Linked DNA regions of Homo sapiens. The main gene of each other region encodes a partner of the protein of the gene in region 2 in a complex. Each region holds a gene or a part of one and is shown on either strand. Other genes may lie near its edges. The genes, in order: NUP214 and NUP153.

Region 1 (8,895 bases), on a different chromosome or scaffold from region 2:
ACCTCACCATGGTCTACTGTCCCCACATAAGCCATCAGAACCAAGGAGGTCACACTGTCTGCAACATGATGAATTAATGTCATGTCAAACTTTTATTAAAACATTAAAAAAATACAACCTGCCAATATGTAAAACTCTAAAAAAAAAAATCTCTTCCCAACTCCCCGCTGCTCATGACCCAAGCCAAAGCACTGTCAGATTCTGGGCCTGAAAGAGAAATTCTTACATCTGTTTTCAATGCGAGACGGTCCTTGTTTGATGGCAACTATCTAGGATGTTACAGGCCTCAAAGATACTGCATTAAAGATAAAGAAGCACTCTAATAAAACTGCAGTGATGAGCTCTGGGCCGTCCTAGCAAACACTGTTGTCAAATCCAGCATCGTTCTGCTAGTGTTGTCTGGCAACAGCAGTGTCTGTCTTCACACTTCCTGGGTCTACCCAAGGGCTATCTGCACTGTGGTTAGTAGACACTGGGTAGGTGTGGCTACCAATGTCACTGCCACATACAGAATATAAAGGCTGTCTTCTCAAGTGACCGGCCCCCTCCTCTCTGGAGTAGGACACATGGCACCCAAGAGCCACATGGAGATGAGAGCCAAGGCCGGCTAAGGCGCAGCACTGTCCTGCCTCACGCTGGCTACTATTGTACTGTACTGAAAAGCGCTATGGCTGCTTCTGAAACTCAACTGCTGCTGGCATGAGTGGCTTCCTCTGCCTCCACTCAATCGCAGAGTGCGTCCTTGGATGGTCCTGATACACAATGGCTAAAAGAACAAGGAGAGGAGATAACCAAGTTTCAGCCTCAAAAAGATGACCCACCAGCATTCAACCTCTTCCCTATGTGGAGGGCGCTAGGTCCAAGTGAGACCACGGCACATTCGATGCTGTTTATCAACACCCGACGCTGGTGACTTCTGATGCCATCCTTGAAGACACAGTGTTCTGGCTGATGGAGGCTCTGCTGGCTTCTCAGAGCCACAGAAACGGGGCAATCTTCTTGGCTGTGATCTGAAAAAACCCACATACGTTCTGTACGGAAACAGACTGTTTAATAGTGGGAGGGAAAACCCAACATGAAATATAAAACAAGTAATCATGCGCCTTGTGAGTTTTGGTTTCTGTTGTTTCTTTCTGGGTGTATGTGTTTTGATGGCAACGTCGGTCTGAACAGCCTGCTCCAGCATTTCTCGGGGAAGAAGCTGAGGATGCGGTTGGTCCCAGGGATCGAAAGGCCTGCTGACACGCCCTCAGCTTCGCCAGCCACCAAAACCCTGGACAGACCTGCAAGGAAGCACAGGACAGTGGTGGAGTCAGCTGCTCTGTCACAGAGCAGTCACAGGCTCTGCTGCTCTGCCTGTGTGCAAAGGTCAGGACTCAGATTTTTTATTATTATTTTTTTGATACAGAGTCTCACTCTATTGCCCAGGCTGGAGTGCAGTGGCGTGATCTCAGCTCACTGCAACCTCTGTCTCTCGGGCTCAAGTGCTTCTTTTGCCTCAGCCTCAGTGGCTGGGATTACAGGCATGCACCACCACGCCTGGCTAATTCTTGTGTGTTTATCTATATATGTATATATATATATTTTTAGTAGAGATGGGGTTTCACCATGTTGGCCAGGCTGGTCTCGAACTCCTGACCTCAAATATCTGCCCACCTTGGCCTGCCAAAGTGCTGGGATTACAGGTGTGAGCCACCGTGCTTGGCCAGTATATATATTTTTTTCTTTTGATATAGGGTCTGGCTGTCACCCAGGCTAGACGGTAGTGGTACCATCTTGGCTCACTGCAGCCTCAACCTCCCAGGCTCAAGTGATCCTCCCGCCTCAGCTTCTGGAGTAGCTGGGACCACAGGCATAAGCCAGCATGCACGGCTAATTTTTTTAATTTTTAGTAGAGATGGGGTCTCACTCTGTTGCCCAGGCTGGTCTTGACTCCTGGGCTCAAGCAATCCTCCCACCTCAGCCTCCCAAAGTGCTGGGATTATAGGCGTGAACCACCCACCTGGCTAAGACTGAATTTTAACGCCATGAAATTTTACACAGAAGCACAGAGGGTGGATCAACACATGAGACCTGGTGATGGCCCAGAGCCCAGGGGTTAGCATGCAGCTTCTGAGAAACCTCCAGGGAAGTCAGGAGCAGCATCTCCTCAGCGCTGCCCTCAGGCCCAGCTCACTGGCAGGCGTGCTCTTTTCTCTTTGAACCACGCCTCTTAAGAAGGCGAGGCCTGGCACCTCCTGCCATATTGCTACAGAGAAGAGCAAGTCCACAAAACCCAAACCCTGCTGCTGAACCCCCACACTTCCAGGACAAACTCTAAAAACAGGAAAAAACGAAAAGAAAATGCACAAATCCAGCAAGATCCACACACTTCCAACCTTATTTAATGCTTTTAATTAAGGTGAGACTCAAAAAGGGGGATACTTACGAGTTATTTGACCCAAAGCTGAACCCTGAAAAGCAGAATAAGAGTGAAGTTAAAGCACGCATCCACTCGAAAGACAAAGGTGGTCCCCATGCTAAGTGTCTGCCCTCCTCTGTGCTTCTTGTGGGAAGCCCTCCGTGCCTCCACCACCTACAGGAAGGCAGGAAAGGTACACACAGAAGCCCCTTTATTCTGAGTTTGTCCTCTGGAGCTACTCAGATCCCCCAGAAGGCAGAAAAAATCCTTTACTTTTTATGAGTTATCTTCTTGGTATTTTAGGGTTCTTCCTCCCTCCTCGGCCCCAGCTGTAGGCAGAGGGTCTCTGGCTTGGCCTCTCAGCTGTACTGGACCACATAGATCCATTCATTAGGAAAACCTTTTTTTTTTTTTTTTTTTTTTGCTGTTGTTGTTTTTCCATCCATTTGCTTCCTCTTCTTTTTGGGGGCCAGAGAAGCAAGATGGCTGGATTCTAGGCCTGGTTCTACTGCTAACTGCTAACACTTAGTTCCTTGGAGTTTCTGTTTCTTCACGGGTACAATTGTAATGATACCTAAATTCTGTGCCTTGTCAGTTTACTGCAAGAACAAAATGGAAGACACATATTCTGCCATCTGAAGAAGCAGAGTGTTAAACAAATGCAAGATGTTTTGTGAAGTTTCTATGCCTTTTTTTTTTTTTTTGAGTCTGCTGGCTTAGATTTTTTAAACCAAGGCCTAGTAAGACCATTATTATTTTGGGCTTCTCAAATCCTGAGAGGAAATCAAGACAGTAATTTCTTTGGTAAGAAATGACACAGTGTTCTAAGTCTAACTAAAACCTAAAAAAAAATATATATGCCAGGTGCTGTAATCCCAGCACTCTGGGAGGCCGAGGTGGGTGGATCATGAGGTCAGGAGATGGAGACCATCCTGGCTAACACAGTGAAACCCCATCTCTACTAAAAACACAAAAAATTAGCCGGGCCTGGTGGCGGGCGCCTGTAGACCCAGCTACTCAAAGGCTGAGGCAGGAGAATGGCGTGAACCCGGGAGGCGGAGTTTATAGTGAGCCGAGATTGTGCCACTGCACTCCATCCTGGGCAACAGAGCGAGACTCCGTCTCAAAAATATATATATATATATATGTTTCAACCACTTTCAGTATGTTACATATTTATTTATTTTGAGACAGGGTCTCATTCTGTCACCCAGGCTGGAGTGCAGTGGTGCAATCACAGCTCACTGCAGCGCTCAAGTGATCCTCCTGCTTCAGCCTCCCGAGTAGCTGGGACCACAGGTGTGTGCCACCATGTCTGGCGAATTTTAACATTTTTTGTAGAGAATGGAGTCTTGCCATGTTGCCCAGGCTAGTCTCAAACTCCTGGGCTCAAGTGATCCTCCTGCCTTGGTCTCCCAAAGTGCTGGGATTACAGGCGTGAACCACGTGCCCAGTCAGCTTTTAAAATACTAAACAGACTGGTCAGGTAAAACATACTCATTTCTTTGGGGGAGAAGGCAAGAGGGACCCATTTTGCTTGTGAGGGGAGAACTTGTGGCAGCTTACCTCCTGTGCCTGATCCAAAACCAGAGAATCCGCTACTCTGGGTCCCAAAACCAGAAGTCTGTTGGGACAGTGATCCGAAAGTGGGGGCATTCTGACTCGCGAGCGTGCCGAAGGATGTGGTGTTGCTGCTGCTCCCAAACCTGCGCTCCAGTGAGAAACAGACTGAGGTCAGTGGGGCCTCTCACCACTTGCCCATCTGCAAGCCTCAGCCCCCTGCTGTAAGTCCCAATACACACGACACTCATGATCCAGGGTGACAGGCTGGGCCTAACTAGCAGCCTTTCAGAGAGAATGAGCTATCGCCCAGGGCCAACTTTTATCTCTGCTCTAGGAAGAAAAATGGCAGGACTACAGTATGAAATCCAACCTGGCCAGTGTTTTAGTTTCCATCCCCCATTGGAACACCAGGGCATTTGGGAACTATGCAGTACACAGTTCCTGCTCTACCTCCAACAATCCTTAAGCTTTATTCTATCATTTTAGCATTTCTCACTTACCGACCATTCCCCCACATCCTGCTCCCATTTATTTATCTTCAGCTCCTCTTGGGATCTTGATTCTATTTACTTTTTCCAAGTCATTTCATTCAGGATTTTGTATTTGCTTCCTGAATCAATAATTACTACCCAAACCAATGTAAAAGTGGCCACTATTTTCCTTCCCCTGCTCGCCCCACCTGGAGACAATCCCCTGTGCCCCCTCACTCAGTTCTCCCTCCAGATATGGTCCAGCACACAAGGTGGCACTGTGTGACCTATCAGAGCCCCTTGAATTGTTTGCAGAGGAACTCGGCTGGGTTGGGGAGAGCTTCTGGGGTCTGGAGGTGACTAGGTGAGGGAAACGGATCAGTGGTTTCTGGGAGAAGGGGCAGCACCTGGGGGCAAGAATCAACCCCAAAGCAAGAAAAAGTATCTAAAACTCTGCCTTCCCACCATTCTATTCACTTTTAATGGTGAGGTCAAGGCTCTTTCCATACAAAGGTGGCCAAGGGATCTGCTCTCATTGGACTTTCTCCCAGGAGCGGCCTGCTCCCTTCCTCCTCCTGCCTTGGGCCTCATCAGCAACAGCCTGCCCTTCAGGGTCGGAGACAGGCTCATGGCCAGGGACCTGGAAGAAGGTAATGGGCTCTTATGGAGATTTAATAACTGACCTGGCATTAACCTTTTTTAGGACTGACTAACCAGCCAATCGGGATTTGTGTGAGAGCCGCCCCAAGGCAGAATATACTTTTCTACTAGTAAAGAAAACAGCTGGTTTCAAATAAATAAATCAATTCACAAGATACCCAGCCAACCCAAACCTTCTACCAACTCTGTGGTACTGTGTGCTGGTTCATCACTGCAGAGAACAGCATCCATTAAGACCTCTGAGAATACCAGCCTAAGTGGGTCTCTAACTGTCCTTTCAAAGCTTTCCTTAACTTTAATTCTTGGGGTTTCCTGAGGGCAAACCTAAGGCATCAGTCTCCCGTGAAACAGGAGAAGCAGCACGCCAACCCTCTCACTCCTGCTGCTGCGCTCCAGCATCTTGCACGGAGGGGAAGGGTGTGAGTAAGAACATACTATAGTTTATTTTCAAGATAAAGATGCTGTCATCTTGCCAAGACTCAGATCCAAGTATCTCAACAATTCCCCTAGACAAAATCATCTCCCCTCCCCCAAACCTTCAGCTCATGCTGAGCCCAGTACTGCGGCAAGAGGCGTTTTAGAACTCCTTTCAGGCATCGACACCTCCTTTGAACAAGAGACTTGGTAGTCATCCCGTGTACATTTTTTAAATTGGGATGTTGTGGTGTGGTGAAGGTTTTTTTCCCTTGGGGTTTTGGCAACCACACTGAAATTCTGCCCTTAAAAGCGACTCCCTAAAAATGGCCTTTTCCAGTGCAGACGCACACGAGGCAATGAGAGCAGCTTCGAAATCCCTGATCATCCAGGATCTTCCCACGGGAGGACCTGTGCAACTGAATACTCACTCTGGGGGGCTGCAGGGGAGCAGGGGACACAGGGAGTTGTTTGTTCAAGGACAACGGGTCTAACACAGAATAATCCCAAGAGGAAAGAATCTGGTGAAAACCATTCATTGAGGACTTCCTAACAGAAGCTCCACACCGGGGCACCTCTTGGCTACAAAGCAGTAGTTAAGGCAGGGCTGGTGCCTTCCTTTAGCCCCAGCAGGAGAACAGGGGCTCTGATGACCAGCATTTCTCATACCAGGGAACAGCAACACAGCTGAGGTCCACCATGAATTCAACAAAGCCTGGCTTGAACGAAATGAGTCTTACCCTGGAGAGGTACAGGAATCCTTGAGGGAGTTGTTCACAAATTTCAAGGGAGGGGCCTTCACCTCATGGTCAAATTTCTTTTCAGAGCAAGAGTACAGGCCCCTAGTGCTTTTTGGCTGGCGTGTGGGTTCCCAAGGGCCCTCCCCAGGGGGCTTACCCGAATCCTCCTGCGCTGGCAGCTGCAGTGCCCTCTCCGAACACTTTGCCTCCCGTCGAGCCCAGAGGGCTTGTAAAGGCTGGGGCTGAACCGAATGCTGGCACCCCTCCAAACCCAGGGGATCCCCCAAAAGTAGGAGGGCTGCCAAACACTGGAGCAGCACCGAAGCCACCTGAGCAAAACAGAGGCAAACAAACAGAAATAGGGAGAAAGAAAGGAGGAGACAGGAAGAGAAGACATTGAGCAATGAGAAACCAAATCAAAATAGGAAGAAAAAAGGGAAAAGAGGATGTTAGCAATTCAAATGCAAGAACTAGAGTAAAGGGCAACACCCCCCCTCCCCCCCGCCCTTCTATCAAGAAAATAGTAATGAAAACAACAAAACAAAAGCCCTCAAACCAAACCACTCCCCTCCATTCCTAGCAGAGGGCTCTGGGGTCCACTCAGGAGAGCTCCTGCAGACCCTGTGAAGTCACTGTGAAGCCGTGTGAGCAGACCTCCAAGAGCCCACTCGGTGCACCTTCCACCCCTCCCAGGTCCTCTGAGCTGTTTGGAGTGAAAAACCATTCTCAAAAACTCCAATCCCTACCTAGCTGACAAAAGATGACAGACTATATTACTTATCAGTACACAGGCAAGACATCCAGCTTCATAGAAACCCAAATTATAAAATCAGAGGCTCAAAACCTCCTCTCAGGGAGAATCCCTGAATTGGGTCATAGCAGAGACAGAGACGTGTATGCTGGCGCCCAGCCAGGTGCTTTTTATTTATTTACAGCCTGATGGCTCCTACGTCTCTCATCAGAGTCTCCCTTTCTCTCGCTCAGTGGAGGTTTGTTTTTTTTTTTTTAAATGCTTTTTTCCTGCAGTCTGGAATTACTTCCCAATGAAAAAACACACCAAATTTCTTCTTTGGAGGCAGGCTGCTGCATAAATCTAATAAAATAATAAGTCAACAGTGAGGACAGCCCTAGAGTTCAGATGCCTTCTGCAACGTTGCCAACACTGCTGCCCAGTGGGCTCAGGCTGCCAGAGGGCAGCACCACACAGGTGGCCACACAGACAAGGGTCAGGTCACGCACAGGGCACCCTACTCTGATTGCTGGTGATGCCTGTCAGGCAGGAAGACAAAACATCCTCTCCTGAGCTATTCCTGATGCGGGTTCCCAAACTTCCAAGATACTGCTGAAATCATTCTAAAGTATTAGAATAGACACTCAGTGAGTGTCTTCTTGAATGAATGGAATAGAATGGCATAAGAAATGTGCTCTAACTGGGAGCACCCTCTAAAGGGAGTACTTCTTAAGGTGAGTGTTGGCCTATGAACTGCGTGCTAGCGGGAGTAATGGTGGCCTAGCGACAAGCCTTTTCTCCCCTTTCAGAAAGTCAATCTGTTGTTAGAGGGATGAAATCCAGACTTCTTATTGTTTATGTAATCACAACACAAGCTTCTGCCATCTGAATCAGGAAAGATCAAATCCTGGGTATGAAAAGTTGTCAGCTGAATCCCTCAGTTAACTGTTATTTTGTGATTCACTCATGTGCCTATTTGCCATTAACAGTGGTAGGCTGCACAACTGAGAAGATACTTTTTTGCTAAGGCTCGTGTTTGGGTTAACATTCCGCATGTTAAAACACTGAGTGAAATTCCAAGCCATGATAATGGAGACTGTTGGGTTATAAATATAACAGACTGGAAAAAAAAAAGTGCTAAAAAACCCTTACAGTTGAATTATTTAAGACTGATCACAGATCTAGTTACACTTTCTTCCTAGACATGCAGGGCGCTATCTAGTACCTTGTATCAATATTGCTTAGACTTCTTGGTGGAAGGTGAGTGAAAAATGGGAAGTCATGATGATACAGAAAATAAACTGGACAGGGGAGGGGTGGCGGTTAAATATACACAGAGAGAAAAAGCCCCCAAACAACACACCTGGGTCACAGCCAAATTAAACAGGAAGAAAACAGTCACTCTGGCTTAAAGAGGCAACTCTCTCCTGATGGCAGGAGGGGTTTGATTTTATCAGTTGCCGTATTTTCATAAATTTCTTCTCCAGAAGAAACAAATTTTCTAATAATCAATGATGATAAACTTTCTGATTTATTGAGGGCCCACTATATGCCAGGTGCTTCACAGCAGTTTTCTTAAATCTTCCCAATAAGCCTGGGATCCTTACATCACAGGGGAGGAAACTGAGACTTAGAGAATATGCCACTTGTCCCAACTTCAGCCAGCTGATGGGTGCTAGAGCTGGGACTGGAACAAGGTCTGTGCGACTCAAACGCCCACCTCTCATCTTCCCCATCATTCATCCCCTGCCTGCCTCCCTCCAAATCTAACACTTTAGCGAGACAGCAGGGTGTAGACCACTGACCATGGTGGGCAGCAAGGCCATCTTCAGTCCATCCCACCTTCCTCCTGTCCTCTCCCCGGATGACCTCCAGCAGGATAATTTTATAATGCAATTTTACTGAAGGGAGGATAGA
Region 2 (8,895 bases):
CCTGTCTCTACTAAAAATACAAAAAATTAGCTGGACATGGTGGCGGGCACCTGTAGTCCCAGCTTCTCAGGAGGCTGAGGCAGGAGAATGGCGTGAACCCGGAAGGCGGAGCTTGCAGTGAGCTGAGATTGCACCACTGCACTCCAGCCTGGGTGACAGAGTGAGACTCCGTCTCAAAAAAAAAAACAGAAAAAGAAAATACTGGAACAATTTTTTGAAAATAAAATGAAGTTGATGTTCCAGTTGATCGTGCCATTGCACTCCAGCCTGGGTGACAAGAGTGAAACTGTCTCAAAACAAACAAACCAACCAACCCCAAAAAAGTTAAGGGACCCTGCCTACCAAACAGATCTGGAGAGGTACCTCCTTGACTGGCAGTTTTTTAAAAGAGTTTTGAAGTACTAAAGACTTCAGCCACTAACAAATAAGAGTAAAAAGAGTCTGACAAGAGGAAAAACGGTTTTCTTATGGAAGAAAAGGTTCCTTTGACCTTACTACCAAGGAAGGCCCAATGTAACCCACCTATGTTTTGAGGAGTTCTTGAGAGAAGAGTTCTTCAGGTCTTTACAGGAAATAAGCAGGCATGAGGGAAATAAGCTTTCTGTATGGACCTGAAAAGTGCTTTAAGATTTAAAAACAAGGCCAGGCACGGTGGCTCACGCCTGTAATCCCAGTACTTTGAGAGGCCGAGGCGGGTGGATCACAAGGTCAGGAGATCGAGACCATCCTGGCTAACACGGTGAAACCCCGTCTCTATTAAAAATATAAAAAATTAGCTGGGTGTGGTGGTGGATGCCTGTAGTCCCAGCTCCTCGGGAGGCTGAGGCAGGAGAATGGCGTGAACCCGGCAGGCGGAGCTTGCAGTGAGCCAAGATGGCGCCACTGCACTCCAACCTGGGCCACAGAGCAAGACTCCATCTCAAAAAAATAAAACAAATAAATAAAATCTTAAAAAACAGCCAGGTGCAGTAGCTTACGTCTGTAATCCCAGCACATTGGGAGGCCGAGGTGGGCAGATCACTTGAGGTCAGGAGTTTGAGACCAGCCTGACCAACATGGTGAAATACCATTTCTACTAAAACTACAAAAATTAGCTGGCAGGTGGTGTCCGCCTGTAATCCCAGCTACCCAGGAGGCTGAGGCAGGAGAATCACTTGAACCTGGGAGACGGAGGTTGCAGTGAGCCCAGATCACACCACTGCACTCCAGCCTGGGCTACAGAGCAAGACTCCGTCTCAAAAAAAAAAAAATTAATCTTAAAAAATACTCTGTGGCCCTAAAGCAAAGTCCACACTTCATAATCATAAATAATAAATTTAAGTTCAAGGATTAAAGGAGTGAATTTTAGAATGTGAACTGGCTAAATCCACTGGGTATTCTCTCTCCAAGAAAGAAGGGTTCTTCATTTGGCAAAACATGTCAAAAATGCCACTGAGATTTAGACTAATTAAAAATTCAATCTGGGGATTAGAATTCAATACTACATACATATCAGGAACATTCAACGTATAAGGTATTGTGAATACATTAGCTTTTCAAATTATATTTAACCTGAGTTGAAGGATTAATGAGCTGGGCGCAGTGGCTCATGCCTGTAATCCCAGCACTTTGGGAGGCTGAGGCAGACAGGTCACCTGAGGTCAGGAGTTCAAGACAAGCCTGGCCAACATGGCGAAACCCTGTCTCCATTAAAAAATGCAAAAATTAGCCAGGCGTGGTGGCAGGCACCTGTAATCCCAGCTACTTGAGAGGCTGAGGGAGGGAGAATTGCTTGAACCCAGGAGGCAGAGGTTGCAGTGAGCCGAGATCACATCACTGCACTCCAGCCTGGGCGACTGAGCGAGACTCCATCTCAAAAAAAAGGATTAATGAAAGGCAGCTGGGGTGGGGGCAGGCTACTCTATAACACTAACTCAGAAACAGCTGGGGTGGGGGAAGGCTATTCTATAACACTAACTCAGAAACAGCTGGGGTGGGGGAAGGCTATTCTATAACACTAACTCAGAACTCACTTGTAATTAACGACATTCTTTTCTTATAAACCTTTTCACAGGAATAACCAGAGGCATCTTTTCAGTATGGCCAACTCCTTGTCATTCCTATATATCCTTCCTTCCTTCTATACAAAGCTCTTTTCTTCCTACTAGTTTTCTTGACTTCAGTTCTGTTCAACTCCCTTTTCTTCACATTATCCTTAGCAGTGTTCAGATTATAAAATCTCCTTTCTCAAATAGTTTCACTGGATCTTTAACTATAAATATCAAATGCAGTCCATCATCAGTTTTAAGGTTCTGGAATCTTATTCTCCCAGGGAGCAGGTTTTTAATTCTTCAGCTAGAAAAGTACTTTAAATGGCTAGAGGACTTGGACTGATTGGATAGGGTAAACTTCGCTGCTGAATGGCATAGGCTTATAAAATACAACCAATAATGTCTTAGATTTGGATGTTAAATTCAGATTATTGAAACTAGATTCAGGTCCAAGCACCGTGGCTCACGCCTGTAATCTCAGTGCTTTGGAGGCCAAGGCAGGGGTTCTGCTTCAGTCCAGGAGTTGGAGACCAGCCTGGGGAATATGGCGAAACCCTGTCTCTACCGAAAAAATACAAAAATTAGCTGGGAGCAGCCGGGCGTGGTGGCTCACGCCTGTAACCCCAGCACTTTGGGAGGCCGAGGTGGGCGGATCACAAGGTCAGGAGATTGAGACCATCCCGGCTAACATGGTGAAACCCCATCTCTACTAAGAATACAAAAAATTAGCGGGGCGTGGTGGTGGGCACCTGTAGTCCCAGCTACTTGGGAGGCTGAGGCAGGAGAATGGCGTGAACCCGGGAGGCAGAGCTTGCAGTGAGCCGAGATCGCGCCACTACACTCCAGCTTGGGCGACAGAGCAAGACTCTGTCTCAAAAAAAAAAAAAAAAAAAGAGCTGGGAGCCTGAAGCAGGAGAATCACTTGAATCCCAGAGCGGGGCGGAGGTTGCAGTGAGCCAAGATCGTGCCATTGCACTCCAGCCTGGGCAACAGAGTGACACTGTCTTAAAAAAAAAAAAAGAAAACTCAATAAAAGCTCACAGTAGTTAAACTCACTAAAAGTTACCTACAAGATACTATCACACTTTTTCTCAGGTAACATGTTTGAAAATTGGGAGTAAGAGTTTGTTTCTTAAATCACACTAAGAAAAAGATATGCAAAATCAAGCAAACTGAAATATCTATAGATAGAAAAGGCATCCTATCATCCTGTTTCTGACAGTAAATGGTATGTGTCAGCAAGACTTGAAACCAAACTTCCCAACACAGAAGAATCTTTTAAAAATATATTACAACCATGAAGATAAGCTAAATAGCTACAAATAATTTTTTTTTTTTTTAAATACAAGCTAGCTGGGCGTGGTGGCTCAAGCCTGTAATCCCAACACTTTGGGAATCTGAGGCAGGCAGATCACAAGGTCAGGACTTCAAGACCAGCCTGGCCAACATGGTGAAACCCCGTCCCTACTAAAGATATAAAAACTTAGCCAGGAATAATGGTGCGTGCTACTCCAGAGGCTGAGGCAGGAGAATTGCTTGAACCTGGCAGGCGGAGGTTGCAGTGAGCCGAAATCGCACCATTGCACTTCAGCCTGGGTGACAGGGCGAGACTCGTCTCAAAAAAAAAAAAAAAAGAAAATACAAGATAATTACAATCTTTGCAATACTCTGTGCCTAATGAAAATGGTTTTGGCTGGGCAAGGTGGCTCACGCCTGTAATCCCAGCACTTTGGGAAGCCGAGGAGGGCAGATCACTTGAGGTCAGAAGTTTGAGACCACCACACCAACATGGTGAAACCCCGTGTCTACTAAAAATACAAAAATAGCCAGGCGTGGTGGCACACACCTGTAACCCCAGTTACTCAGGAGGCTGAAGCAGGAGAATCCCTTGAGCCTGGGAGGCAGAGACTGCAGTGAGCCAAGATCACAGCATGGCACTCCAGCCTGGGTGACAGAGCTAGATTCTGTCTCAAAAAAAAAGAAAAGTAAACAGTTTTAATTAGTGACATCAGACTACAATTTTTATTTTACTTCAAACTAAGATATCTGCCTTGTCAGGGACTTCCCAGAAAATGGATACAGCAAGTGGACTTTTTTGTCACTTATTAGAAAAATTAAGTAAATTAATATAATACCACACAAAACCTCTCATCACAAACAAAACACCTACTTTGCATTAAACAATTTAATACATGCAAGTATTGAATTTAGTCACCTAAAGGAAACAAAACTTCTGATAAGAAGCAGGAAAATTCAGAGACAATATGAAGACCCTAAATCAGGAGACTAATTTGAGTAATAATAAAACTGTGGTCTCCCACAAAAAAAAAGATCCTAAATCAAACAGTTCTATTTAATTTCAAATTTCAATTGCATATATATAATAAGGACTCAATTTTTAATAACTCCTTACCTATATACATATGCCAGGTCCTGTTCTAAAATCTTCACTTGTCCCATTTAACCTCCACAACAATTTTCACTTTACAGATGAGTAAATTAACTTGTCCAAGTCCAGGCAGAACAGGGATCCAAACTCAGGCTGACTCCATTACACTACAATGTTTTCCTAACAACTATCCTATCAACTATCCAATCCTATCAATGTTTCCATTTCTATTCCCACTGATTATATTAAGCATCTAGGATAAAGCAAATAAGGATAAAATAAAAGTTAAAAACTTGGTGACTTCTGGAATGATTTAAATATTCGACCTCTAAATATCCCTCCTTTTCAAATCTGAGAACACTCCAGCTATCAGATACCAGGCAGGACATACTTATTTGGGACAGAGTATCACAAAGAAGCTACCAAAACAAATAAAAACAATACTATCATATAAACCATGGTATAGCAAACAATGACCTGTGGGCTGGGCCAAATTCAGACCTTGGTCTTTTTTCATACAAGCTAAGAATGGTTTTTACATTTGCTAAAGGACTTTTAAAAACAAAACAAAGGACAATTTACCACAGCAAAGCCTAAAAATTCACTATCTGTGTCCCTTTCAGAAAAAGTTTACTGACCCCTGATCTAAGCTACTGATAAAGAGGTTTCCTTCCCCTTTTTAAAAATAGCTAAGCAGTGGCTCATGCCTGTAATCCCAGCACTTCGCGGGAGGCCAAGGCAGGTGGATGGATCACTTGAGGTCGGGAGTTCGAGACCAGCCTGATCAACATGGAGAAACCCCATCTCTACTAAAAATACAAAATTAGCTGGGAGTGGTGGCGCATGCCTGTAATTCCAGCTACTTGGGAGGCTGAAGCAGGAGAGTTGCTTGAACCCAGGAGGTGGAGGTTGCAGTGAGCCAAGATGGTGCCGTTGCACTCCAGCCTGGGCAACAAGAGCGAAACTCTGTCTAAAAAAAAAAAAAAAGCTAAATGCGCCAGGTGCAGTGGCTCACGCTTATAATCCCAGCACTTTGAGAGGCCGAGGAGGCCAGACCACGCAGTGAGGAGTTCGAGACCAGCCTGGCCAACTTGGTGAAACCCAGTCTCTATTAAAAATACAAAAATTAGGCCGAGTGTGGTAGCTCACACCCATAATCCCAGCACTTTGGGAGGTCAAGGCAGGTGGATCAGGAAGTCAGGAGTTCAAGAACAGCTTGGCCAAGATGGTGAAACCCTGTCTCTACTAAAAATACAAAAATTAGCTGGGCGTGGTGGCACGTGCCTGTAGTCCCAGCTACTCGGGAGGCTGAGGCAGAGAACTGCTTGAACCCAGGAGGCGGAGGTTGCAGTGAGCCGAGGTCGCACCATTGCACTCCAGCCTGGGTGACAGAACAAGACTCCATCTCAAAAAAAAAAAAAAAATACAAAAATTAGCTAGGCGTGGTGGCCTGCGCCTGTAATCCCAGCTACTCAAGAGCTGAGGCAGGAGAGCTGCTTGAACTCGGGAGGCAGAAGTTGCAGTGAGCCAAGATTGTGCCACTGCACTCCAGCCTGGGCAACAGAGCAAGACTCTGTCTCGGGGGGGGGGGGAAAAAAGCTAAATGCAGGAACTGACTTGTAAGACAAACTATATCTAGGAGGATTAAAGGCGGAGTCCCTTAGCTCTAAACCAGAAGATAAATGTCTGAAGCATACTACCCACACCACCCCACCCCACCCCCATCCCGGGACAAAAAGGGCAAAAATAAGTGGTTTCCTCTCACCAGGAGGTGGCAGTAGGTTCTGGTTTGCCCATGGACTCAAGTTTTTTGTAGTGGTTACTAAGAAAAGCAAGCAGCCTGACCTCTCCAAAGAGCTGACTTTCTGTGCCTGACAATCTGAACAAAAAGGAAATGGAAAAGGAAGACAGGAACTAACCACATTCTCTTCAGTTACCTATTCACTCTCAACTAGAAAAATGACACCATTTCTGGCCGGGCGAGGTAGCTCATGCCTGTAATACCAGCACTTTGGGAGGCCGAGGCGGGTGGATCACAAGGTCAGGAGATCGAGAACATCCTGGCTAACACGGTGAAACCCCGTCTCTGCTAAAAATACAAAAAATTAGCCGGACGTGGTGGCAAGGCACCTGTAGTCCCAGCTACTCGGGAGGCTGAGGCAGAAGAATGGCGTGAACCCGGGAGGCAGAGCTTGCAGTGAGCAGAGATCGTGCCACTGCACTCCAGCCTGGGTGACAGAGCGAGACTCTGTCTCAAAAACAAAACAAAAAAAATCAGCCGTTTGTGGTGGCGCATGCCTGTAATGCCAGCTACTCGGGAGGCTGAGGCAGGAGAATAGCTTGAACCCAGGAGGCAGAGGTTGCACTGAGCCGAGATTGCACCATTGCACTCCAGCCTGGGCAACAGATGCAAAACTCCGTCTCAAAAAAAGAAAGGAGAAAAGAAAAATGACACCATTTCCTAAATGCATCTAGGCAAAAAGGTAAAGGGGTAGGGGAGAAGGCAAGTAAGAATGATCAGCTTGCATTATTCAGGGCTGTTCTTCATATTTGCTTCTACAATTCTTAAGAGTTATTACCCTTATAACTCTTCAGTTATTTGAGCAAGACAATGAATTTGTCTGCACAACTTCATGCAAGATGACATTTTAAAGATCAGAATTTGGGCCGGGCGCGGTGGCTCACGCCTGTAATACCAGCACTTTTGGGAGGCTGTGGCGGGTGGATCACCTGAGGTCAGGAGTTTGAGACCAGCCTGACCAACATGGCGAAATCCCGTCTCTAAAAATACAAAAATTAGCCGGGCGTGGTGGCGCATGCCTGTAATCCCAACTACTTGGGAGGCTGAGGCAAGAGAATGGAATGAACCCAGGAGGCAAAGGTTGCAGTGAGCCAAGATCGAGCCACTGCACTCCAGCCTGGGCCACAGAACGAGACTCCATCTCAAAAAAAAAAAAAAAAATTAAAAAAAAAATAAGTTAAAGAAGGAAAGTAGTAAACTTACAGCATTTCCCAGGAGAGCTAAACCCAGAAGTCAAAACAGGAAATTACAAGTCAAATGAACACATGCAGAAGTCATAGGTACTGGGTGACTGTACTAGCCAAGTTGCCCTGACAGGCACTGGCAAACATCCATTAACTAACAGCGCCAGACCTCTCATTGTTTCTTACTCCAACTTTCTGCTATACTACCAAAAGCTTAATTTTTGCCCAGAAACCCTTGGACACTTAATCAAATAACATTAGTATAAAACATGCCATGTCATGAAGCTTGCTTCATGATGACTCAGCAGCTTCTGCAAAACATCCAGTTGACAGCCTAGGATAATAAACAGCAAGTGGGTAGACCCTATGTCCACCAAAGCCTCAATAAGGACTAAAGAAAGTCCTTATTTTTAAGATTAAAAAAAAAAAAAAGGAGAGTATTCTTTTGAATATACCTGAATACTTTCCTTGGGTAGTGGTAGTTTCTGCCAATATTAAATAGCACCTACAGTGTTGATCAAGAAACCCCTAAATACCTTTACTTCCCAATTCAAAAGCTAAAATATGTTTTCTTTTTTAATTAAATAGGACAAGAAGCAAAAGTATTTTAGATAAGGGGCAATGATAAATTATCAAGATTTAAAACAAAACTACACAGCCTGAAGTCGTATCAACTCTAAGACACCTTGGATCATAGGTGTTATGCTGTTAAGACATCATCTCCCCAAAATTAGATTTTTATTTTATCTAAGTACATTTAAGCTGTGATCAGGGGCCGGGCGCGGTGGCTCACGCCTGTAATCCCAGCACTTCGGGAGGCCGAAGCGGGGAGATCACGAGGTCAGGAGATCGAGATCGTCCTGGCTAACATGGTGAAACCCCGTCTCTACTAAAAATACAAAAAATTAGCTGGGCGTGGTGGCGGGCGCCTGTAGTTCCAGCTACTCTGGAGGCTGAGGCAGGAGAATGGCATTAACCCGGGAGGCGGAGCTTGCAGTGAGCCAAGATCGCGCCACTGCACTCCAGCCTGGGTGACAGAGCGAGACTCCGTCTCAAAAAAAAAAAAAAAAGCTGTGATAACTTCAGACATCTGGAAAATATTAATTCCCTTCTAACCTCTATTCAGACCATCCAATGACCTATATTTAAAACAAGTCATTTTTCTACATGTCATACAAGAAAATCTAAGCACTCAAAGGCATTCATAGGAGAAAAGAAAGCATGCATGTGTAACTTCCATTCTACAGACGGATTAGGTTAAATGGCCAGGCTTGTGACCTGAATTCTAATCTTAAATCTGCTCGCAAATACCCCTTTTCTTCACAAATTTGAAAACTAAGCACTTTATGTACATATCTGGGGGAAAACTGGTGGGAGTAGTAACAGTGCCAAACCTAACCATCAGTAGAGAACGACTGAAAATACCTGAACCACAATTTTTACTACTCAAACATTTCCCTCAAAATAAAAAACATTTAAGAAAACTAGAAG

Evidence for each region.
Region 1: NUP153 (region 2) and NUP214 share a complex: the UniProt entries of both Homo sapiens proteins name them as parts of the nuclear pore complex.

The regions. Positions count from the first base shown.
Region 1 is NC_000009.12:131,225,842-131,234,736, reverse strand, and holds the end of NUP214 (nuclear pore complex protein Nup214), read right to left. Parts: intron 6,578-8,895; coding exon 6,406-6,577; intron 4,108-6,405; coding exon 3,968-4,107; intron 2,454-3,967; coding exon 2,429-2,453; intron 1,284-2,428; coding exon 1,250-1,283; 3' UTR 74-1,249; downstream 1-73. UniProt on the Homo sapiens protein: Part of the nuclear pore complex. Has a critical role in nucleocytoplasmic transport.
Region 2 is NC_000006.12:17,695,834-17,704,728, forward strand, and holds part of NUP153 (nuclear pore complex protein Nup153), read right to left. Parts: intron 1-8,895. UniProt on the Homo sapiens protein: Component of the nuclear pore complex (NPC), a complex required for the trafficking across the nuclear envelope. Functions as a scaffolding element in the nuclear phase of the NPC essential for normal nucleocytoplasmic transport of proteins and mRNAs.